7 linked regions of the Homo sapiens genome follow. The protein of the gene in region 1 purifies or fractionates together with the protein of each later gene. This does not show direct contact. Each region holds a gene or a part of one and is shown in the gene's direction. Other genes may lie near its edges.

Region 1 (2,398 bases):
GCCCCATTATTATTGATTATATTATTTTATGCCCTAATCGAAGTATATAATGACTACAGCTTCTTCCTCAATCTCAATTTAGCAGTGTTAATAGAGGAACTTCAAAGTCAAGGAAAGTCAAAATCACCCCGAAGAGATGGTAAGAAGAGAGTTTATTCTGTTCATAAGGGAACAAGTGGCACGGATGGTGGGCAGGAGAATTTGGAAGCAAAATCCACAGCAGGAGATAAGACAAAAAGTCATACTTAATTCTGAATTAGTGGCAAGATCCAAACTCTTTCTCTCACTCTAGTTTCGTATTGTTTTCCAGCAGGCCACTACCTTTGCTTGTCTTTGAGAAACTGGAATGAATACAATGCCTGGCTTCTCCCAAGAGTGACTGGTTTTCCTTAATTGTCCCTTTTCTGACTTGAGGCCACAGAGGGAGAACCTTTCTAAGGTTTGCGTTTCCAGTTTTTGGCTGACTGCCTGCCTCTGTTCCCTGCCAGCTTCCTCACTTCTTGGACTGTTATGTCATCAATCTGAGAAATGGGCACAATAAAAGAGAGAAGAGGCAGTTGAGGCTGGTTTCAGAGAGAATTTTAAGAGACTTCATTAGGAAGAAGAGAGATTTGGGGCAGGTGCTATATATGTGAGATAAAGAGATAAGGGAGAAAGAGAGATGGGGATGCACCTTTTAAGAAGTGTTGCTAGGATGGGCATAGTGGCTCATGCCTGTAATTCCAGTGCTTTGGGAGACCAAGTTGGGAGGATTCCTTAAGGCCAGGAGTCTGAGGCCAGCCTGGGCCACTTAGCAAGACCCTTGTCTCTACCAAAAATTCAAAAAATTGGCCAGATATGGTAGCACGCACCTCCTAGCTACTCAGGAAGCTGAGGCGGGAGGATCCTTTGAGTCCAGGAGCTTGACGTTACAGTGAGCTATGATTGCACCACTGGGTGACAGTGAGACCTTGCCTCTTAAAGAAAAGAAAAAAAAAAAAAGTGGCCGGGCGCGGTGGCTCACACCTGTAATCCCAGTAGTTTAGGAGGTGGAGATGAGCGGATTGCCTGAGGTGAGGAGGTCGAGACCAGTCTGGCCAACATGGTGAAACCCCATCTCTACTAAAAGTATAAAAAAATTAGCTGGGCAGGGTGGCATGTGCCTGTAATCCCAGCTACCTGGGAGGCTGGGGCAGGGGAATTGCTTGAACCAGAGAGGGGTGGGGGTTGCAGTGAGCTGAGATCGTGCCACTGCAACTCTAGCCTGGGTGACAGAGCAAGATTCCGTTTAAAAAAAAAAAAGTTTCTGGACATCATGACTCATGACTGGGATGTCCCTTTGTTATTTTTTAAGGACATTGGTAAAAATTTAAAATGTCTTTCAAATATTTTTGGCTAGTATAGTAGTGTTTCTTTGGAACAAACTCTGTGCAGAGACTGGTTTGAAGTTGACGGGAAAACAATTATTTTATGAGGGCTGCGCTAACAATGGGCATCCTTGTATATACCTATGTCAGTGTACCTGTACAGGTATACCTGAAGGGTAAAGTCCTACGAGTGAAATTGCTAAGCCAAAGGATAAGTGCATTCAAAAACTAGAAAGATATTGCCAAGGTTGTCCTGAAAAATACTGTATCAATTTACACTCCTACTTGCAATATATGAGAGACCCCACTGCATTTGTGCCAACTCTGGGTGTTAGCTGGCATTTTGTAGTTGCTTGTATAAGTAAAAATGGGGTCCGCATTTTCTTCTAGGTTGACCATTAACAAACTAAATGTCCATCAATGGGCAATGGCTAAGTAATAAAAAAATCTATTGTATGGAATATTATATACAGCTAAAAATTGTATGATGAGGATCTGTATATACTAACTTGGAAAGAGATCCACAATACATTATCATTTGAAAAAAGACAAATTAATAAACAATGAGCTCATCACAATTCCTTTTTTTATAAAAGGAGAAAAATTCTCTTTTTGAGTTTGCAAGGAGAATAGGGAAGATTTTGACATCTTGATTTCACTCAGTTTTTTTTTTTTTTTTTGAGATGGAGTCTCACTCTGTTGCCCAGGCTGGAGTGCAGTGGCGTGATCTCGGCTCACCGCAACCTCTGCCTCCTGAGTTCAAGCGATTCTCCTGCCTCAGCCTCCTCAGTAGCTAGGATTACAGGCGCCTGCCACCACGCCCGGCTAATTTTTTTGTATTTTTAGTACAGACGGGTTTTCTCCATGTTGGTCAGGCTGGTCTCGAACTCCCGACCTCAGGTGATCTACCCACCTAGGCCTCCCAAAGTGCTGGGATTACAGGCATGAGCCACCGCACCCAGCCTGAAGACAGGTTTTATTTTGGGCAACATTCAAGATTACTTGGAGTCAAATTTGATTAATAAGGTAAAGATCAAATTTTGCAACATAAT
Region 2 (3,500 bases), on another chromosome or scaffold:
AGGAGGATTACTTGAGCCCAGGAGTTTGAGACTAGCTGGGGTAACATAGTGAGACTCTATCTCTATTTTAATTGGGATCTTTTTTTTTTTGGTTCCTTTTTTTGTGGAGAACGAGGTCTTTCTATATTGCCCAGGCAGGTTTCAAACTCCTGGGCTCAAGTAATCCTCCCACCTCTGCCTCCCTAAGAGCTGGGATTACAGGCACAAGCCACTCTGCCTGGCCCTCCATCTCTATTTTTAAAAAAAGAAAAAAAAATGTTTTTCAACTTGAAACTACAGAAACTAATTTTCCAAGTATACTACAAAAAAATTTCATGATAACTGGAGACGTCAAACCAGCTTCCAAGCACTTGAAGAGGAAAAAAATAATAAGAATAGAAGCCACGTGTAACAGATATTTTTAAAGAACTGAAGATGTTTATCTTAAGAATTACTCTAAAATTGAAAGAATTGGTCTAAGATTTTACTCAAAAGTTTGGATGAAATTAATAACTGACATTTCTTGAGCATTTATAATATTCTAGGCACCATTCAAAATGCTGTGTATGTATTAACTCACTCCTCTAAACTTAATGAGGTTAATACTATTATTATCATTCTGATTTTATAGGTAGGGAAACTGAGGTGAGGCATGGAGCAGCTAACACTAGCAAGTATTAGAGCTGAGATTCACAAACAAACATATGCAGTCTGGCTCCAGAAGCCACATACTTACCTGCTAAACTGTACTGCCGCTTGATATTAGAGCAAATTAACCACAAAAGGACTATTTTGGCCATCTGGCAAATAAATAGCTCAGATTTATTTTGTTTCATTATAGTTTTATTTTTTCCTTCAATGATCAAATTCATTTTTATTATCCTTGAAATTTCCCTTAATATTCTTGTATACATCTCCTAGTCCTAAATTTTAAAAAATGAATGATACTCCGGGTTCTAATTAATTGATGAAACCTTATATGGCCATTAAAAATGATGTTTTTACAAAGATTTTTAAGAATACAGAGGAATGCTTATAACATAAAGTAGCACCATGTAAATTAGGCGGAAGCCAGGCTTCCCCCTCCCACCTCCTCAAGAAAACATCTAGAAAACAGATGAGAAAGTTTCATTGTGCTATCATTGGGTAGGAAAATTAGGAATAATTTCTTATGTACTTTTCTTAACTTTCTATAAATTTAACTGAATACTTTTATAGTCCAAAAAATGAAATAGATTTCATTTTTTAAAAGGCGAATTGGAGCCTTTCATTACAGAAGTATAGTCTGCAGCTCATCGTAATAATCTTATTGCATAATTTAGAATCACTTCCACAGAGCCCTTGGCCATATAAGTGAAGGCGGCACAGTTCAGACCTGCACTGTGATACGTGGCTGTTTAATTAAAATTTAAAATCCAGCTCCTCAGTCACACTAGCCCCATTCCAAGTGCTCAGTAGCCACATGTGGCAAGTGACAGCTTTTCTAGCATCATAGAAAATTCGATTGCCCAGCATTGGTTTGGAAGAAAAAACAGGGAATCTGGAGCCAGAAAACTTGGAATCAAGTCTGCCTACAAGCTGACACTTGCTGTGTGAAATGGGGCAGTTTACTCAACCTAAGCCTATTTCCCCATGACCAAATTGGGACTGAGGATAATACCATGTACCATATACAGAGGTTAAGAAAATTAAGAGAATGCAGGTGACAGTTCTCTGAAAACAATAGTGTGGTTTACCAGGTAGATGCTGCTTCCCAGTCCCCCAGCTTGAAGTCAGTCTAGCTCTTCAAGGACTGATTCCAAATCTTTGAATGCTTCACACCAAGAATTTTACCTGAATGCCACCATCAAAATCAGATTAGCTCTTATTACAGTTCCTGGACCAAGCCCGTGGCAATGTGCACATTTCATTTCTTCCTTGTAAAAAGCTTTAATACACAGCTCTCTCTATACAATGACAGCTCCTAAAAGTTTTCTTTAATAATTTAAAATCTTCACTGTATTTCCATTCCTACAATTAAAAAGACTCCCTTAAAAAAGAAAAGAAGAAAGCTGTGTTCACCAAAGAAATACATGGAGTTTGTCAAATTCCATATAACAAGGAAATCAGGTGGAGTTAACGGTGCAGGAATGAAGCAAAAGAACGTGAGGTTTTTACCAAAAATGAGAGCAGCTTCGCAAAACTTCAAAGCTGTCGGGGTACTGATGAAATGGAAGTACTTGCTCATTCTGATTTTTTTTTTTCTCTCCTAACTCACTTCTGGTTTTTGCTGCAAGACAACTTGACTATTTTAGACAAATGTAGGGCTGCTGCATTTCCAGAACGCCTCCATCCTATTTCTCATTTAAACCACCTCCCCTTCCCCGTGGCCTATTAATGCATACTTGCAAGGCTGCGAAACACAACCCAAAAGAGGCAAGATCCAGCGGTTCCCCACTCACGCTTCTTTCTGCTTCCCCAGGTTTCCGCCAGCTGTGGATGCCTTTGACATTATGACCGCAGAGGATTCCACCGCAGCCATGAGCAGTGACTCGGCCGCCGGGTCCTCCGCCAAGGTGCCCGAGGGCGTGGCGGGCGCGCCCAACGAGGCAGCACTGCTGGCGCTGATGGAGCGCACGGGCTACAGCATGGTGCAAGAGAACGGGCAGCGCAAGTACGGCGGCCCACCGCCCGGCTGGGAGGGCCCGCACCCGCAGCGTGGCTGCGAGGTCTTCGTGGGCAAGATCCCGCGCGACGTGTACGAGGACGAGCTGGTGCCCGTGTTCGAGGCCGTGGGCCGCATCTACGAGCTGCGCCTCATGATGGACTTTGACGGCAAGAACCGCGGCTACGCCTTCGTCATGTACTGCCACAAGCACGAGGCCAAGCGCGCAGTGCGTGAGCTCAACAACTACGAGATCCGCCCGGGCCGCCTGCTCGGCGTGTGCTGCAGCGTGGACAACTGCCGCCTCTTCATCGGCGGGATCCCCAAGATGAAGAAGCGCGAGGAAATCCTGGAGGAGATTGCCAAGGTCACCGAGGGCGTGCTGGACGTGATCGTCTACGCCAGCGCGGCCGACAAGATGAAGAACCGCGGCTTCGCCTTCGTGGAGTACGAGAGCCACCGCGCGGCTGCCATGGCTCGCCGCAAGCTCATGCCTGGCCGCATCCAGCTGTGGGGCCACCAGATCGCCGTGGACTGGGCCGAACCTGAGATCGACGTGGACGAGGACGTGATGGAGACCGTGAAGATCCTCTACGTGCGCAACCTCATGATCGAGACCACCGAGGACACCATCAAGAAGAGCTTCGGCCAGTTCAACCCCGGCTGCGTGGAGCGCGTCAAGAAGATCCGCGACTACGCCTTCGTGCACTTCACCAGCCGCGAGGATGCCGTGCATGCCATGAACAACCTCAACGGCACTGAGCTGGAGGGCTCGTGCCTGGAGGTCACGCTGGCCAAGCCCGTGGACAAGGAGCAGTACTCGCGCTACCAGAAGGCAGCCAGGGGCGGCGGCGCGGCTGAGGCAGCGCAGCAGCCC
Region 3 (3,500 bases), on another chromosome or scaffold:
GTAAGTGAAAGAAAACGGAGAAAAGGAGGAGCAGAGGAGAGAGAAAAAATGAAGAACTATGATAAATGCTTTATACTTACTGTTTTTTTAAACCTTAGAACAAATTTGAGGTGTAAGTATTTTTGTCCTTTAACAAACTAGGAAAGAGGTTTAGAGAAGAAAATTTTTTTTAGGTTTAGAGAGGTAGAATAATATCCACCATTAACTACTTGCTACCAGCAGTCCTATAACAAAAATTTCCTGAGAACTGACTACTCTCAGTGTCAAGCCGTGATACAATCGTATTTTTTGTAACTGAGAAGACACTTAAGAAATTAGCAGGCTTCAATTTGTCTTTAAGCTGTTTAAAGGTACAGTTGTTCATTTATGATCCCCAGTATAAAAGTTATGTTTTTGTTTCAAGGTACTTTGAGTAAATTTGTCTGGCACAGATGCATATAAACTAACCCAAAAGAATAAATGAGTCAATAATATTCTGCGATAATGTATGACATTTATAATTTTTAGTAAAAAACATATTTTATGGAATTTCATTTTACCTATACTTGTTGTTTTTCTAAATATTAGAGCTTGTAAAGAAAATGTTAGTATATGCTTTCATGACATTTTGTTTCCTCTACATCTAGGCAGCAACAGTTACAAAAGAATTAAGAGAAAGCAGCTTGTTAAATCAACATGCATGTGCAGTAATGAAAAATTTTGGGACCCGAACTTTCCAAGCCATGTAAGTTCAAGTTCTATCTAGGGAAGAGGGTGAGAGCTACAGAACTACCATTTTGCAATTTGGGTTCGTTTTTTTAATTGTTGCTGTTTTAGAGAATGAAGACCCCTTTGTGACCCCTTTGATGAGGGCTAATGGGATTAGAACCATGAACTCTTAGGATCAGAAGGAAGCTAACGGATAAGTCAGTTTAACACTTACTAAAGCCTAGCTGAGATAATACATAGAAAAGACTTTTAAAGTTTATGTTATTTACCTGTTCTTTAAGACACTTAAGTTCTGGCCTGCCATCAAATTATACCTCATCACTAGACCATATTTTTCTAGCTCTTCTACAAAATAAGTCAGCCTTCACTGAGTGTCATTTAAAACTTTTGCCTTAACAAGAAATTCTTTATATTAATTGTGTTTCTTAATCTTCTATAAGGCTCTTTATAGCATTTATTGCTTCCCATAAAAATATTCCTTTGAGGCAATAATATTAGAATCTAGTGTCAGGAGAAAAGAACATTTTAAATTATATAACTTCTTTAAAGTACTCATCAACTCTTTTATGATAAAACATTTCTAGTATATGAAAATATCTGAGCTGCTAATCGAATAGTAGTAAGTATATATATTCAGAGTTTATTTGATTGCTGTTTGGTTAAATAACACGTTAAAGCATATTGTAGACAATGGAAATCTAGAATGAAGTTTTTAGTAATAGAATTAGTTCTAAAGACTGAAATTTCTTCTTGTAAGAAGTCAGATTTATGCCTTAACTACCCTCCAACTCAATTAGAAATTGAAAGATTAATTTATGACCTACTTTAAAAAAATTTATCTTAGTAATAAAATAGAAATTGAGATAGTATTATAATACCCTTATCATTTGCTATCCATAAGTGAAAGCTAAGTGGTCTAAATTTATAGAGAAGATCCATCTTTATCAGAAGCAGGAGTAACACTATTTTCTCTAGGAGCAATGGTTTTACAAAGACAACTCTTAAAATTTAATGAAATATGCAGAGGAAACCAGAATTTTTATTTCTTACTTCTTTTTTGGCCACATTACTCTCTTGGCACACTGGTATGCCTGAAATGTTTAATCTGCTCCACTTTCTTGTCCCATTTCATTGATTTGCACATACGCCTCCTTTCCTGGATTCTCAGAAGTATTTTTTACCCCAGTAAAAAATGGTTCTCATTTTCATGGAATTTTCCATTTCTTAATTGTTTATCCTTTTAAAGTTTTATGTCCACTCAATACAAATGCTCAGCATAAGGGTTGAATGGCAAAAATAATTTACCTTAATTCTTAAGACATGTTTTAGGAAAAGATAAATTATTTCTAAACCATTTGTGGGGCCAGCTCACAGTTTACAGAGCTACCACCTTGAAAGATATGGCTGGAATCAAGCCTTAAAACATGTTTCCTTTTCTTTTTAAACAACAAGGGAATTTCAGTCATTTCTCTTTGAAACTTCTACTGTAGTAATACTCTATAAATTCTATTTTATTTTGACAGATAACCAAGAAATTAATTTCTAATTTCTTTTTTTTCCCTAGAACTGTTACTAAACTGAGTCAGAAGTTTACCAAAGTTAATTTTACTGAAATCCAGAAACTAGTCCTGGATGTGGCCCATGTACATGAGCACTGTTGCAGAGGAGATGTGCTGGATTGTCTGCAGGATGGGGTGAAGAGTCTTGCTTCTTAAAATAGAAGATTTTCACTCCCTTTTCTTTCTTTTTGTCTCATTCTAAAAGGGAGAAGGTTGTTTGACTTGAATTGGTTACAGAGTATGTAAACTAGGTGACTCCTTAAATTTGCAGAATTCTCGGTAGTAAAACTTAAACCATCTTTTGTTGATCCTGGCTTTCACTTTAGCTATACCCCTTTTTGTGAAACCAAGGCTCATCTATTTCTTACTTCTAAAAAAACCGTGGGAACTTCTCAGAAGGCTTCTCCATAGTTACTTGGAGGACGGGAGGAAACTAAGGTTTAATGTATTTATTTTTTCATTCATTTATTCTTTCATTTGACAAATAAATATATATTAAATACTTTCTATCTGCTAGCCACTATGACAGACACTTGTTTTAAAAGCACAGGCTGACCTCAAGGAATTCACAGTCTGATAGGAGAGATAAGACAGTGACCTCCTTGGAGTTAGGGACTGCCTTGGTTTACTGTTATCTCCATAGCACAATGCCTGGCACATGGAAGGCATTCTATAATAGTTTGTTAAATGAACGAATGCAATAAAAATTGCACAAGTAACTGTCCTACCAGGTAAAAAGCTAGCCTTGCCAAAGACAAGTGTGAATAAAGTGGTCTCGGAGAATTAGAAAACAAAATTTAAAAAACCCAGCAACAGTTTCTTGAGTGTGCTCTAGTCAGTGGTGGTTTAAGCAGTGTGGCATTGGCTTATTTTGGCTAACCCTAGACTTCCTAGATTTTACAAGAGAGGACTGTTGACCCTCAGATTACTCTGTCTCTGTGGGCTCCATGACATACCAAAGAGATTAAAATCCAAGGAGCTTAAAAATTACTGCTCTTAGGTACTCAAATGGCTTGATAACCAGCACTGGACTATGGTTTCCAGAAGGCTGAAAGTGAAGATAAAATGCTCATTTCAGCCCATCCGATGGCAATTCAGTGAGATGCTTGAAGTAAGCAAGAAGCCAAGGCTGCAGAGGAGGCCTGAGAGTGACAGTCCCTGAGGAGCTGGGGAAGAAGTGGGAGGAGGCAGCCTGGCAGGCGACTGTACTACTTTACTTGTTTTTCTTCTAAA
Region 4 (3,500 bases), on another chromosome or scaffold:
TGACTGCCCAGTGCCCAGCAGGACCAACTCCTTCAACAGCCACCAGCCGCGGCCCGGTCCGCCTGGCAAGGCCGAGCCCTCCCTGCCCGCCCCCAACACCGTGACGGCTGTCACGGCCGCGCACATCTTGCACCCGGTGAAGAGCGTGCGTGTGCTGAGGCCGGAGCCGCAGACGGCTGTGGGGCCCTCGCACCCCGCCTGGGTGCCCGCGCCTGCCCCGGCCCCCGCCCCCGCCCCCGCCCCGGCTGCGGAGGGCTTGGACGCCAAGGAGGAGCATGCCCTGGCGCTGGGCGGCGCAGGCGCCTTCCCGCTGGACGTGGAGTACGGAGGCCCAGACCGGAGGTGCCCGCCTCCGCCCTACCCGAAGCACCTGCTGCTGCGCAGCAAGTCGGAGCAGTACGACCTGGACAGCCTGTGCGCAGGCATGGAGCAGAGCCTCCGTGCGGGCCCCAACGAGCCCGAGGGCGGCGACAAGAGCCGCAAAAGCGCCAAGGGGGACAAAGGCGGAAAGGATAAAAAGCAGATTCAGACCTCTCCCGTTCCCGTCCGCAAAAACAGCAGAGACGAAGAGAAGAGAGAGTCACGCATCAAGAGCTACTCGCCATACGCCTTTAAGTTCTTCATGGAGCAGCACGTGGAGAATGTCATCAAAACCTACCAGCAGAAGGTTAACCGGAGGCTGCAGCTGGAGCAAGAAATGGCCAAAGTAATTTCACACTTCATTTTTACTATTTGTTCCCGGCTCATCCCTCTACTGGCAATAGGAAGCACGCACAATCCCTTTTCTGTTTCGACTGTATACCCCTTATCATCAAAACGGCTAATGGGCGACAGTCTGGTTCTGGGGCCAACAACTTGGAGAAGTTGCAAATGGTGTGACCTCCCTTTCGCCTTTCCCCTTGACTCTTCTGAAGAATCAGAGATAGCTGTGCATAATGTAGCCAGCGTAATGTAGGTAATCTACAATTTACATTGTAGGTAAATTAGCAAATTAAGTTTTAGGGTATGTCCTCGCTTAACAAAATTCATCATGGATTAATAATAGAACATTTGAATGAGTAGAAACAAAGTTTAAGGTTTTGTAAATTGAGATTGTGGGATTTTGGAAGAAAAATGTATCTAGTAGTGATTCCATTTATTCTTTTAAGTGTTTAGTTAGTAACTAATGATTTAAATATACCTTAGTTGACACTGAAGTGCTGAAGAAGGTAATTATTGATGAAACTATTTAAATTAAAATGTAACAGATTTAAATCACACAAAGCCAATAATTCCAAAGCCTGAAAACCAGATTTGTGTTCTTTTCAGTGTCCCGTATTCACTGATTTTTTTACAGATATACTTTTCATTTGTGTTTTTTTTATTTTTATTTTTTATTTTTTAATTTATTTTTAGACGGAGTCTTGCTCTGTCACCCAGGCTGGAGCGCAATGGCGCGATCTTGGCTCGCTGCAACCTCTGCCTCCTGGGTTCAAGCGATTCTCCTGCCTCAGCTTCCCGAGTAGTTGGGGTTACAGGTGCCTACCACCACGCCTGGCCATTTTTTTGTGTTTTTAGTAGAGACGGGGGTTTCGCCATGTTGGTCAGACTGGTCTCGAACTCTTGACCTCAGGTGATCTGCCCACCTCGGCCTCCCCAAGTGCTGGAATTACACGTGTGAGCCACCACACCCAGCCGTTTATTTTTTATTTATACATAGTATTTGTAGATTTGTGGGGAACATGTGATATTTTGTTACATGCATAGGATATGTAATGATCAAGTCAAGGTATTTAGAGTATCCATTGCCTGGTGTATTTATCATTTCTGTGTTGGAAGCATTTCAAGACCTCTCTTCTAGCTATTTTGAAATATTGAATACATTTTTACTAACCATAGTCATACTAGTTAGAGTTTGTTCCTTCTATCCAGCTGTATGTTTGCACCAATTAACTTCTCATCTCCCCTCAACACACACACACCCTTTCCCACCTCTGGTAACTATCATTCTACTCTCTACCTCTATGAGATCAATTATTTTAGCTCCCACATATCAGTAACAGTGTGTGGTGTTCTAACCGAACTTCTGTTCCTGGCTTATTTCACTTAACATAATGACCTCCAGTTCCATTCATGTTGCTCCAAATGACAGGATTTCATTCTTTTTTATGGCTGAATAGTATCCCATGGTGTACACAGACCACATTTTCTTTATCTGTTCATCAGTTGATGGACACTTCAGTTGATTCCATGTTTTTACTGTTGTGAATAGTGCTGCAATAAACATGGGGTGCAGGTATCCCTTTGATATACTGATTTCCTTTCCTTTAGATAAATACCCAATAATGGGTTTGGTAGATTGTATGGTAGTTCTATTTTTAGTTTCTTTTTTTTCCTTTTTGATAATAGTCGTTCTAACTGGGGAGAGATTATATCTCATTGTGGTTTTCATTTGCATTTCCCTGATGGTTAATGAGCATCTTTCCATGCACCTCTTAGCCATTTGTGTATCTTCTTTTGACAAGTGTCTATTCAGGTCATTAGCTCACTTTTTTTTCTTTTTGAGACAGAGTTTCGCTCTTGTTGCCCAGGCTGGAGTGCAATGGCACGATCTCAGCTCACCACAACCTCCGCCTCCCGGGTTCAAGTGATTCTCCTGCCTCAGCCTACCGAGCAGCTGGGATTACAGGCATGCACCACCACGCCCAGCTAGTTTTATGTTTTTGTAGAGACAGGGTTTCACCATGTTGTTCAGGCTGGTCTCAAACTTCCGACCTCAGATGATCCACCTGTCTCAGCCTCCCAGGGTGCTGGGATTACAGGTGTGAGCCACCGCGCCTGGCCTTATTTTATTTATTTATTTTTTAATTAAGACGGAGTCTTGCTCTATTGCCCAGGCTGGAGTGCAGTGGTGAAATCTCGGCTCACTGCAACCTCTGCCTTCTGGATTCAAGCTATTCTCCTGCCTCAGCCTCCTGAGAGCTGGGACTACAGGTGTGCGACACCATGCTCAGCTAATTTTTGTATGTTTAGTAGAGACGGGGTTTCACCATGTTAGTCAGGCTGGTCTCAAACTCCTGACCTCAAGTAATCCGCCTGCCTCAGCCTCCCAAAGTGCTGGGATTACAGGCGTGAGCCACCATATCTGGCCTTTTGGCTTACTTTTTAATGGGATTATTTGATATTTTTTTTGCTGTTGAGTTGAGTTCCTTGTATATTCTGAATAATAGTCTTTTGTCAGATGAATAGTTTGTGAATATTTTCTCCTGTTCAACACAGGTATCCTCTTTACTCTGTTGTTTCCTTTGCTCTGCAGAAGCTTTTTAGCTTAATATAGTCCCATTTGTCTACTTTGGGGTTTTTTTGCCTGTGCTTTTGAGATTTTAGCCATAAAAATCTTTGCTCAAACCAATGTCCTGGAGTATATTTTCATAGCCTCTGGTCTTATTTCTAGGTCTTTAATCTGTTTTAAGTTGACATTCCTATATGGTGAGAGATTGGGGTCTAGTTTCATTCTTCTG
Region 5 (3,500 bases), on another chromosome or scaffold:
CAGTTAAGGGCTGGCTGCCTGGGGGCTGGGAAATGGGCCGATCCCTCATGGCTCAGCCTGCCCTTGCTGGCTGCTTGCCCTGGTCAACTGTCCCTTCTGCCGCAGCCTTCCAGGAGCTCCCCATGGAACAGAGAGTCTCTCCTAGGCCACTCTGCTGACCACCTCCTCCTGCCCATGGCTGGCAGTTTTCTGTCCCTAACTCTTAGGGAAGAGGAATGGCCAGGAGGGTTGGGGGTAGAGTTACTGAATTTCCAGAGTTCAGGTCAGGACATGCATTTGGGCAGGGACAAGGGTACTTTCGGGACTGTGGTTGCTCTGGTTCAGTTTCTTAACTCTGGCACCATTGACATTTTTGGCTGGCTTTTTTTTTTTTTTAAGACAGTTGTACTCTGCCACCCAGGTTAGAGCTCAGTGGTACAACCAGAGCTAACTGTAGCCTCAAACTCCTGGGCTCAGGTGATCCTTTCACCTCACCCTACCGAGTAGCTAAGACTATAGGCATGTGTCACCACAGCAGGCTAATTTTTAAATTTTTTGTAGGGACAGGGTTTCACTATGTTGCCCAGGCTGGGCTCAAGCGGTCCTCCTGCCTTGGCCTCCCAAAGCATTGGGATTCCAGGTGTGAGCGACTGCACTGGGCTGGATCATTCTTTGTTGTGCAAGGCTGTCCTCTGCATTGTATGATGTGTAGCAGCTTCCCCAGCCTCTCCCCACTAGATGCCAGTAGTTCTCCCACCCCTGATCTTCCAAGTTGTAACAACCAAAAATGTGCAGACATTGCCAAGTGTCCTGGCGAGGGTGGGAGGTGGGCAGAATTGCCCTTGGTAGAGAACCACTGCCTTAGTCCGTTAATTTTGATTTCATTCCTTCTGTCTGAGCCATTATGGTTAGACCTTCTTGTAATGAGACTGCCTTTCTGTGTGGTCTGGGGTGAACCACTGTGGGGAGGGCTAATATATTAATACGTTTTAATTTTCAAAATTTAATAAACACTTTCATGGCACTCACTGTGCATAGAAATAAAAGGGCTGCATTTCATCTCAGCCCTTTTATTTCTTCTAGTGTACTGATGAAACTGAAGCACAGAAAGGTTAAGTGACTTTCCCAAGGTCACAGAGCTCACAGGTGGCAGACCCAGGGTTGTCTGGTGGAAGAGATCTCCTCAGGGCCTCTGGAGGCAGTGGGGTTTTTCTGCAACTCCTGGCCGAGGGTTTCTGCCAGCCAGCAGTGAACCTGGCTTGCTCCTGCTCCCTGGGCCTCCCATGCCCCTTCCTTGCATTGGCAGTGCCCTCATACTGCGGCCTCATTTGGAAAGTTCCTGGAAGGCATCTTGGAGCAGATGCACACTTGATAATGCTTTGATAGTAGTGCTGGTCTGTTTTGCTTTTTTTTTTTTTTTTTTTTTTGAGACAAAGTCTCACTCTGTCGCCCAGGCTGGAGTGCAGTGGCACAATCTCGGCTCACTGCAACCTCCGCCTCCCGGGTTCAAGCGATTCTTGTGCCTCAGCCTCCTGAGTGGCTAGGATTACAGGCACCTACCACCATGCCCAGCTGATTTTTGTATTTTTAATAGAGACAGGGTTTCACCACCCAGGCTGGTCTCAAACTCCTGACCTCAAGTGATCCACCCACCTCGGCCTCCCAAAGTGCTGGGATTACAGGCGTGAGCCACCGTGCCCGGCTGCTCTTTTCTTCATTTTTACCTTTTGCTCCATGGAATTTGTGTTCCTACCCTCCAGGCCTCTGCCTGTCCTGAAGGCCGCAATCCTCAGCTGCCCCTCCGGAAGGAGCAGAGATGAAAACTGGCTCTGGTTCTTTTCATTTATTCTTTCAGTGAGTATCTCTTGAGACCCTCCTATGTGCCAGGCACTGCTTGAGTGTTTGGGAGTACACCAGTTGTTGTAGCAGACACGGAATCCTTGTGGTCTTGGAGCTTTCATTCTAGTGGGGGGCTGCGGGGAGCCAGACAGTAGACATGAAGTCAGTTACGTCGTGTGCAGAAAGGTGCTGTGTGCTGTGGAAAAAATAGAGCAGTGTATGGGGATTAGGGATGAGGGCGGAAGGATAGTTGCAGTATTAAAGTGGTGATCACGTAGGCTCATGGGGAAGGCAGGATTGGAGCTGAGACTAAGAGGGAGCCATTGTGGTTCCCTCTGCTTCAGAGGTAGCCCCTGGTTTCATCTTCGTCCAGCCTCTTTTTCGGTGATCTCTCTACTCCTTGGTTTCTTTTGCTAAACAAATGAGCCAGTTTTCTTTCCCGAAGGATGTTGCCTTTGGTTGGCTAGTGGTGGAGTTTCCCTCCATGCTGTAGACATCTTGGTCACCTGTTCTTGTTCTGGTCTCCTCGATGAGGCATGAATGCATCCTGGTTAAAAGGTTGTGTGTACTCTCATAATCGCTTCCCTTACTACAGACCTGCAGCTGCTCGAGGCAGTTTTAATTTAGACTGCTCCAGCAGTTTAATTTGCTGATCAGCTTCGTGGGATATGCTTGTGGAACAATCTCATTTCTTGATTCCTGAGCTGACTTCTGTGAAGCACCAAGCATCGGGTAAGTCATTCATTGTTAGGTGCACCATTGAAGAACAGTACACATTCTTAAAGTGCTTTCTGCACATATTGCTGTTTAACGAGAAATCCCCCTGGGTCCCTGTGCACCTTTTCCAGCACAGGATTTCCGCTGTGATGTGATCTTTGGGAGTTGCTGCGGGTGGGAGTGGGGTTTGTTGATTCATATTTGCAGGAAACCAGAGATCAGATGCCTGCCTGATACCCAGGCTTTGGAGAGGGGGGTTATTCTTGGCAATGTGGGTAACACTGAGCTTCTGTGATAGATAGTATTGTACTTGGGGACAGTAAAATGGAGATGTGACTTCATGGCCAATCTCAGGGAGGCGGAACTGTGGGAAGTTGTGGCTGGTCCTGGTTCTCAAGGTGAGGGCATGCAGGTGCTTTTCATAGAGGCCATTCTCATTTATGAAGGGTCATTAGATATTTTATCGGATTGGTAGGTACCAATCCCATAAAACCATTGGGATGGTTAGGCACCGTGCGTCCAGTGTACTTCTGGATAAAACAACTGGAGCATTTACATGGCGGGAAAAAGAACAGGTAATTTGAGAGGCCTTCACATTCAAGAGTGGCCATCAAGGTTTCTTCCTCTCTGCGTCAGAGACCAGTCCAGGGAGTGAACTCTTTTCTTTCTGACAGGCTGCTGCCCTAGAAAAATGACGCACTTCAAATGAAGGGTCTTTCTTAGCTAAATTGCCCTGTGAGAGCTTGAGGAGCCGGTGCAAATTAAAGGCCTGTGTTTTGGAGATGCCCATGAATTAAGTACTCTGTTATCAGTATTTGGGTAAGTGTAGATGACTGTTGGGTAGGGGCATTTGTATGGCTGTCCTGGATGATGAGAGGGTTGGCCCAGTGTGGGATGCCTCCCAGTCTCATTGTTTCCTCCTTGCTGCCTCTGGGGCTTTCCCCTTGACCTAGATGTTGAGCTTT
Region 6 (4,083 bases), on another chromosome or scaffold:
CACCAGCAACCTGGGGTGGTGGAATCACCAGACCATTTGCCATCTAGTTCACTTGAGGCAAAATGCAGCAATCCAACTGGCCTCAGCATCCTCATCGATGAAATGAGAGTGATAATAACCATGGTGGTAAATGTGATAAGTTGTCAAGGGTGTTTCATTGTAAATTGCCTAGGGGGTATTGGGAACTCACACACACACACACACACACACACACACACACACACACACACACACACACATATATTTCTGGAGACAGTTTTGCTCTTGTTGCCCAGGCTGGAGTGCAATGGCATGATCTTGGCTCACTGCAACCTCCACCTCTGGGGTTCAAGTGATTCTCCTGCCTCAGCCTCCTGAGTAGCTGGGATTACAGGCACCCACCACCACGCCTGGCTAATTTTTGTATTTTTGTAGAGATGGGGTTTCACCACGTTGGCTAGTCTGGTCTTGAACTCCTGACCTCAGGTGATCCACCCGTCTTGGCCTCCCAAAGTGCTGAGATTACAGGCGTGAGCCACTGCACCCAGCCCTGATTGTCAATATCTAATCAGGTTCCTCATTTTCCACCATTCCCCAGGTGATGTCTGATCACCTTGCCCTGCCTTCAGCAAGAATCTTGTTAGATGGGTTTAAGCGAGAATCCTCTCATCTCTGATGCAGTTTCCTATGCACTGGCGCTCAATCAGTGGATCCTTTCTCCTTCCTCATAAATTCCCAGTTGCCCATGCTGATTTCTGAATTGAGCCCAAATACTCTCCCTGACCGCAAAACCCACTGCAGTGGTCCCTACACCCATCATGATGCCAATAAAGTCGGCCTTGTAGTCTTTAACAAGTGTCATTCAATATTTTTTTTAACATCCTATACATAAAACTCCAGCCAAGTGAGGTCCTGATTCTTCTATGTGTCTCCGGTTCCCATCTATGAGAAGGGCACAACGCAACCAGGGTTTTGGGCAGCCTTCCATGAAAGCACCTGGAAGCCGGAGAAGGGGGGCGGGGGGACTTTTGACACAGATGGGGAAGGGCGGAGGCGCTGGGTTTGAGCAGCATCAGCCCAGAAATGCAGAACTGCCAAAAGAAACCCCCCTAAAAGGCAGGACACTTTTAAAGAAAATAAAGGTGAATTCCAGGCATGAGCTTTCGACGGGGAATGGGGCTTCCCCGACTCGCCCCCACGCCCCCCGCCCTTCTCCCCAGGTGCGCAGCCCGCGCCGCCCACCCCGGGCGCGGCGAGGCGACGGGAGCCGAGCTCTCTAGGACCCGAGGAGGAAGAGCTGCAGGGAGACAGTGCCTCCAGCGGGTGCTGCCGCGAGCGGCCAGCCGAGGGGCTGGAAATGAAAGTAAAGCGCTCCAGAGCCACATGGACGGAGCTGCCGGGGCGGCGGCGCCGGGAGCAGGATGCGGCCGCCCGTAATTAAATAGCATTTACTCTTATTATTACTAATAATAATAACGTAATCATACCTCTAGTCATAGCATACCATTTATCGGGCTCGGCGCAGGCCCGCGGGGAGCGCAGCCCGGCGGAGGTGAGTGCTTGGCGCGGCCCGAGCCCCGCGGGGCAGAGGCCGGGGACACTGCGTCCGGAGCCGCCCGCGCGCGAGGGTTCGGGGACGCCCGGGCCGGGCAGGGCTGGGGAAGAGGCGAAGAGAGCCCTTTCCAGGCCGGGGCCGCGCGCCGGGCCACCTGGAAAGTGGGATTTTGCAAAAAATAAATCGTCTCTAAAACCCCATTTGCTCCTTTTTGGGGATCCCGGTCCCCGTGCCCTGCCCCAAAGTTTAAAAGTTACCGTGTGGCCGGGGGCACCTGGCGCTGGGGAGACTTGGCCGCCCCTGCAGCCCCCAGGAGGTGTCTTGAAATTTTCGTGGGGCCTCTCTCTTCGGCGTCCGGAGCTTCTGGGGTGTCCAGATGCTTTGCCGACCCCGCGCAGGGGGTCTCGGGGGCTGGCAGGGGCGTCGCTGGCAGGGCCCCCCTTCCTTTTGTGTTGTCCTTGGCCCCGCAGCACCCGGAGTTGGAGGGGCCGCGGCGAGGGCCGGGGAGCGGGGCCGCCCGACGGGCCGCCCCTTTCGGCTGCGGCGGCCACGCGAGCCCGGGGATCCGGGGCCTGCAGCCGGGCCCGCGGGAAGGGGGCGGCAGGAAAGGGGGGCGCGGTCTGGGCCTGCTGGGCAGGGGGGCGTTTCCGGTCGCAGGATCAGTCTCTGGACTTCGAGGCCTGTGGGAGGCCCGCGGCCGTCCAGGGAGTGCTAGGGGGCTGCGGACCCCGGCTCTGGCGCCTGGGGACGGGGGCGCCCTGACGGGGCTGGGGGCCTGGGAGCCGCCGACTCCGGCCTCATACCCCCATCCTGCCCGCTGCGAACCTCAGGGCCCCCCTCCGGGTTTGCTCCCTCCTCCTTTCCCCTCCTTTCTCCTCAACTCTGTCTGTTTTAGGCGTTTATAAGGCGCCTGGTTGGGGGGACTTTCACAGACAAAGCCGTCTTCCCAGGGGGGAAAATAATCATATAAAAACAGCTCACTCTGATAGAACCTGATGGCTGTATTGCCAACAGGGCATTGACGGGGAAGACTAGGGGGCTAGGGCCCTGCGTGGGGAGTCTGGGGGCTCTAAAAGGGGGCTGGGCCTGAGTGGGGAGCTGGTGATCAGCGGTTTTATTTCTCGGGTTGCTAGCTTTGGCATCAGACTTTGAACCCCAACTTCTTGCCATATTCCTCAGCATCTGCAGTTCAGCCTGATGAAAATAGCAGAATGCAGATCCTTGAATTTTCACACAAATGAGATAATTATAGTACATGTAGCAACTGTGTTGGACACAAAATGCTGGCAGAATCTTTAGTTCTACTACCAATACTTCCTCTACACACATACAGCCATCCCCTCCGTGGTGGTCTTCTTTCCCCGTGTCCACCTCCCACAGAAGTTGGACTGCAAGGTGGAAATGACACCTGGTCAACAGTTGGATGGAGCATGTTTGAGAAGTGGGGAGACTTAAGGTGGGAAGAAAGAACCTGTCCAGGAGGGATGAGATCTGAGGATGGGAGAGAGACTTTGTTGTCCCTGAGCTGGGATAAAGTTTCTGTTCTGTAGATGCTGTGTGTTCTTAGCTGCTGGCTTTTGTATAGGTTAGACAGGAATGGGGGTTTTGGTAGATTATTGTGGGGCTTAGAAGCTTGGTGGGATGTGCTGATCTCTCGAGTCTTAGTAGGAAAGCTGAGATGTCGGTTGAGACATGGATAGAGAATCTGAAAATAATCCCTCAATCTGAAAATAATAATCCCTCAAATATCACTTTTTAGTTTATAACAAAAGGGCTTTCACATGTGTTGGCTCATCTGTCCTCCATAGCAACTGTGTCAGGTAGACATTTTCTAGATAAGAAACCTTAGGCCGAATTGTGTGTCTTGCTGGAAAGTCAGACAGCAGAGGTAGGATTCCCACCCAGTTTTCTGGCTCCAAATCGTCACCCTTTCCCAGAGTCCTGGGCCACCTTAGCAAGTTACTTTTCATTTATTTTATTTTATTTTATTTTACTTTTTTGAGACGGAGTCTCGCTCTGTCGCCCAGGCTGGAGTGCAGTGGCGCGATCTTGGCTCACTGCAAGCTCCGCCTCCCGGGTTCACGCCATTCTCCTGCCTCAGCCTCCTGAGTAGCTGGGACTACAGGCTCCCGCCACTACGCCCAGCTAATTTTTTGTATTTTTAGTAGAGACGGGGTTTCACCGTGTTAGCCAGGATGGTCTTGATCTCCTGACCTCGTGATCCAGCCACTTCGGCCTCCCAAAGTGCTGGGATTACAGGCGTGAGCCACCATGCCCAGCCTTCTTTTTATTTTTTGAGACAAGGTCTCACTCTGTCACCCAGGCTGGAGTACAGTAGCACAATTGTAGCTCAGTCTGCCAGGCTCAGGCAATCCTCCTGCCTTGGCCTCCCAAAGGGATAGGGTTACAGGCATGAGCCACCACACCTGGCTGCTGCAAGTTTCTTTCTTTCTTTCTTTCTTTTTTTTTGACAGAGTCTCACTCTGTTACCCAGGCTGGAGTGCAGTGGCATGATCTTAGGTCACTGCAACCTCTGCCTCCCGGGTTCA
Region 7 (3,500 bases), on another chromosome or scaffold:
AGTGCTGTACTGTACCCGTTCTGTCACTTAGATGGTATGGCAAGGCCATCCCCAGGCCTCTTTGTTCTTAAGACTTTTCTCTTCCCTTGGGGACTTCATTGTCCTTAAGACCTTTCCCCTCCCCTGCACTGCACTTCCCCCTGTAGGGTAGAGGTTAATTGGTCACCTGACTGAAGTCAATATTCAACAGCAGAAATGTTAAACGATAACCCATCCCACATTCTTGCCTTGGACCCAGAGGCAGCCAGGCCCCAATCTCTGCACCTCTACTTGCGCCCCCATACAGCCTGTTTGCTGTGGGAGGATGAGAAGCCAGGTGGTTTTGCAGGCAGACAGACTCTGAGAGTCCGTTTATCTTATACAGGATCTCTTGACTTTTTCTTCTTGTAACCTTATTAACCTTCATTCCAGAGATGAAAAAGACAGACCCAGTAGGGGAATAATCAGGGTGAACACGTATATGAAATTCTTTCAAAAACCTAAAAAGCATTTAAGAAAAGAAAAATAGTTTTGTGGGTTGCCACCTCTATTTTTTTGTTTATAAAATGGGAAGGGTCTGGATTGCCCTGTGACTTAGGGTGTGAGGAGGCTTTCTCAGTTCAGAACTTGTTGAGAGATAGGAAGAGTAGTCAGACAGGTGGAGATTACTAATAAAAGCTAGGTTGGGGCTGCGTGTGGGGGCTCACACCTGTAATCCCAGCACTTTGGAAGGCCAAGGTGGGAGGATCACTTGGGCCCAGGAGTTTGAGACCAGCCTGGGCAACAAAGTGAGACCCCCATCTCTACAAAAATACAAAAAAAAAAAAAGAAGGAAAGAAAAGCCAGGTATGTTGGCACCAGCCTGTAGTCTCAGCTACTGAGAAGGTTGAGCTGGAAGGATTGCTTGAACCCTGGGAAGTCAAGGCTGCAGTGAGCTGTGATCATGCCAGTACACTCCAGCCTGGGTGACAGAGCGAGGCCTTGTCAAAAAAAAAAAAAAAAAGCCAGGTTGGGTAACTTGATGAAGATATGTAGGCATTGGACTGAGCCCTGAATTCGAGAGACTCTGACCTTGGTAAGATCAATGGTAGGAGCAGCAGGGAATTTGTGCTTTCTGGAGGCAGGTAGATCCTGAAATAGGAGAAAGAAAAGGGCTGAACCACACACAAATCTGATCATGTGAGACACTTCTCTGCCTTGGGAGGAGTGTTTGGATAGAGAGAAGCCAGATATGTTTCTCTAATGGAGGTCCCTCTGCAGGGAAACATAAAGCCAGGGGAAGGGGGTTTCTTTCCAGCCCTTGGCTTAGGGCGAGAGTACATCAGAGAACTCTGGACAGTGGCGTGGTCAGTTCATGGAGCAGGAGTGAGAGAACACAGCCTGCACTCAAGGCTTTCTCTTGGGGAAGGAGTGGGAATACTGGGTCTGTGCCCATTGATGTCCCCCTTTTCTTTGATCTTTAGCACCCCCAATGGGAACAGCCTCAGTGCCGCAGAACTCACTTGTGGAATGATCATGTGCCTGGCCAGGTAAGTCCCTGACTTCTCAGCAAAGCTAGTCTCTCCGATATGCCAATTATTACCACTTGCCAAGCAAATGGACCCAGAAAAACTTAGAAACATTTCGTCTCAGCGACTTGCAGACTGCTAAGAAGGCGACATGCAGACTGCAAAGAACCTTTAAGGCCATCAGGTCCTCTATTCAACATTCATTACACAGGTTCCCTAGTGCACAAAGGTGCACTTCTCTTTACTCATGTTCTATTCTCCATGCTGCAGACAATCTGCCTTCTCTAGCCTCCAACTCTTGCAAATGTTCTCCATACCCTGCTGCCTGGAGATAACAAGGAAGGATGTTCCAGGCAGCAGGGTATGGACAGTGTCTAGGTACCCTCTGCTTACTTTTCAAGATTAAGCTTCAGTATTAATTTATCCAAGAAGCTCTCTGGCTTTTCCAGCTAGGCTATGTCCCTCACTGATTCCCCTGGCCCTCAGGGCTTATCTCTGTCACTGCCCTTACAAATCTGTATTGTAATAGAATGGAGTAAGAACCTGCTTCAGGGTCCTTGTGTGTTCTGTGGGTTCATAACACAATGGAACTCAAATGGGCAAGACTCTTGCTCTTCTAGCAGGAGTTCCAGGCCTCTTGAGTGGATGGGGCAGCCTAGAAATCAAATGGTTGTGGCACAGAATGTGCTTGAGTCTCAGTGTGTTGGTTAGTAATTTGGCAAAACTGATTGCATGGAGCACTTCTGTTGAACAGGCAATTCAAGCATTTATGTGGTCAAGGGGAAGAACAAGGCTCCCAATAAACAGGGTAGGAAGTTGTTCTAGGTCCCTTTGAAGCTCCATGGATTCCCTAAACCAGCGGACCTAGGCATCAAGGACTCCTTGTTTCTCTACTCAGGCCTGAAACCTTCCGGGACCAAGAAATTACTTTTCCCATGGCGAGACCTGCTTTCCCTCCTGCTGGAGGAGGATCTGGGGGAATTTACCTCTGCTCTAACTCCTCCCTGCAGTTTCCATCTGAGCTCTCTGGTATTCACTGATATTCACTGGTAGGTGAAAGGAGGCAGTGGGGGGAAAGGAGAAACAGGGATAGCTTACACAGCAGTAGGGTCTCAGCCTAGAAGGGGCCCCCAGGCTGGCAGCCGGGTTCTCCCAGAACATCTAGGCTGAGTGTCTCTCCCCCTGGAGAAGTACAGAAGCCTGGCACCCTGGTTTCACTTCAGCTATTACCTTCAGGGATTTTTTTTTTTTTTTTTGAGTAAGGGAAAAGATCTCAATGTGGCTTTCTGATTAATTACCTCACTTTTTTTCTGGAGGTGGAAGGAAAGGATTGGGAGCCAGCAATACTTTCCCTCCTTTTCCAGGACCAGCTTTGTTTAAAGGAATCGGTGAAATGCTGTGGTTTAAAAGAAGCTCCCCATTGTCAACTGCTCACCATGACCTCACTCATCAAAGGTGCATCAAAACTAGGAAACACGCACACCCTATTGGGAAGGAATGCGTTCGTTTCATCAGACTGTTCCTAGCAGGGAGGACGGTAGGAGAGTGTGGGTGCCTATATGTAGACTCTACAGGATTGGGCAATGTGGGTGGAGAGCAGGCGTGGCTGGGCCTCACAGTAGGGACTTTGAGCAGATGGCGGGGGCTCCTGAGGTGCAGAAGAACAGCACACAGAAAGGAAGGAAGGAGAGAATCAACAAATGTAGGTTTCACCATTTTTGCCTGCTTTACCATCTCCTCCTCTAGTAAGTCAGGCCAGCAACCATTTAATTATTGTGAGGACCCTCGCCCACATTAGAGTCCTCTCCAGTCTGGCCTGATGAGGATTCCAAAGCATTGAAACCTGGAGAGGCTCCATGATCAGCTGGGAGCAGCAGCCAGAGAAAAGGGTTAGGGATTTCTTGTGTTCTGTGGTGCCGCACGCATACATCTTAGATAGCACTGTGGAGTCTGGTGGGAAGAAAATAGGATGTGAGGGAGAGGAGAGAGGGGCCAGGTGGGGCTCTGTCTCAC

What was found.
Region 2: the proteins of FBXW10 (region 1) and RBM47 purify together in Homo sapiens (affinity purification with mass spectrometry, with the first as the bait; one study listed by BioGRID). This does not show direct contact.
Region 3: the proteins of FBXW10 (region 1) and AFP purify together in Homo sapiens (affinity purification with mass spectrometry, with the first as the bait; one study listed by BioGRID). This does not show direct contact.
Region 4: the proteins of FBXW10 (region 1) and LATS2 purify together in Homo sapiens (affinity purification with western blotting; one study listed by BioGRID). This does not show direct contact.
Region 5: the proteins of FBXW10 (region 1) and GALNT2 purify together in Homo sapiens (affinity purification with mass spectrometry, with the first as the bait; one study listed by BioGRID). This does not show direct contact.
Region 6: the proteins of FBXW10 (region 1) and ZC3H7B purify together in Homo sapiens (affinity purification with mass spectrometry, with the first as the bait; one study listed by BioGRID). This does not show direct contact.
Region 7: the proteins of FBXW10 (region 1) and PHGDH purify together in Homo sapiens (affinity purification with mass spectrometry, with the first as the bait; one study listed by BioGRID). This does not show direct contact.

Annotation. Positions count from the first base shown.
Region 1 is NC_000017.11:18,775,054-18,777,451, forward strand, and holds part of FBXW10 (F-box/WD repeat-containing protein 10), read left to right. Parts: intron 1-82; coding exon 83-139; intron 140-310; coding exon of another isoform or gene 311-393; exon of another isoform or gene 394-439; intron 440-2,398. UniProt on the Homo sapiens protein: Probable substrate-recognition component of a SCF (SKP1-CUL1-F-box protein)-type E3 ubiquitin ligase complex which mediates the ubiquitination and subsequent proteasomal degradation of target proteins. Overexpression is leading to degradation of CBX5 and CBX1.
Region 2 is NC_000004.12:40,437,865-40,441,364, reverse strand, and holds part of RBM47 (RNA-binding protein 47), read left to right. Parts: intron 1-2,440; 5' UTR 2,441-2,471; coding exon 2,472-3,500. UniProt on the Homo sapiens protein: Single-stranded RNA-binding protein that functions in a variety of RNA processes, including alternative splicing, RNA stabilization, and RNA editing. Functions as an enzyme-substrate adapter for the cytidine deaminase APOBEC1.
Region 3 is NC_000004.12:73,442,721-73,446,220, forward strand, and holds part of AFP (alpha-fetoprotein isoform 1 precursor), read left to right. Parts: intron 1-626; coding exon 627-724; intron 725-2,272; coding exon 2,273-2,402; intron 2,403-3,500. UniProt on the Homo sapiens protein: Binds copper, nickel, and fatty acids as well as, and bilirubin less well than, serum albumin. Only a small percentage (less than 2%) of the human AFP shows estrogen-binding properties.
Region 4 is NC_000013.11:20,985,087-20,988,586, reverse strand, and holds part of LATS2 (serine/threonine-protein kinase LATS2), read left to right. Parts: coding exon 1-706; intron 707-3,500. UniProt on the Homo sapiens protein: Negative regulator of YAP1 in the Hippo signaling pathway that plays a pivotal role in organ size control and tumor suppression by restricting proliferation and promoting apoptosis.
Region 5 is NC_000001.11:230,073,738-230,077,237, forward strand, and holds part of GALNT2 (polypeptide N-acetylgalactosaminyltransferase 2 precursor), read left to right. Parts: intron 1-3,500. UniProt on the Homo sapiens protein: Catalyzes the initial reaction in O-linked oligosaccharide biosynthesis, the transfer of an N-acetyl-D-galactosamine residue to a serine or threonine residue on the protein receptor.
Region 6 is NC_000022.11:41,300,242-41,304,324, forward strand, and holds the start of ZC3H7B (zinc finger CCCH domain-containing protein 7B), read left to right. Parts: upstream 1-1,283; 5' UTR 1,284-1,531; intron 1,532-1,791; exon of another isoform or gene 1,792-2,128; intron 2,129-4,083. UniProt on the Homo sapiens protein: May be a specific regulator of miRNA biogenesis. Binds to microRNAs MIR7-1, MIR16-2 and MIR29A hairpins recognizing the 'ATA(A/T)' motif in the apical loop.
Region 7 is NC_000001.11:119,721,934-119,725,433, forward strand, and holds part of PHGDH (D-3-phosphoglycerate dehydrogenase), read left to right. Parts: intron 1-1,442; coding exon 1,443-1,508; intron 1,509-2,385; coding exon of another isoform or gene 2,386-2,516; exon of another isoform or gene 2,517-2,536; intron 2,537-2,851; coding exon of another isoform or gene 2,852-2,942; intron 2,943-3,500. UniProt on the Homo sapiens protein: Catalyzes the reversible oxidation of 3-phospho-D-glycerate to 3-phosphonooxypyruvate, the first step of the phosphorylated L-serine biosynthesis pathway.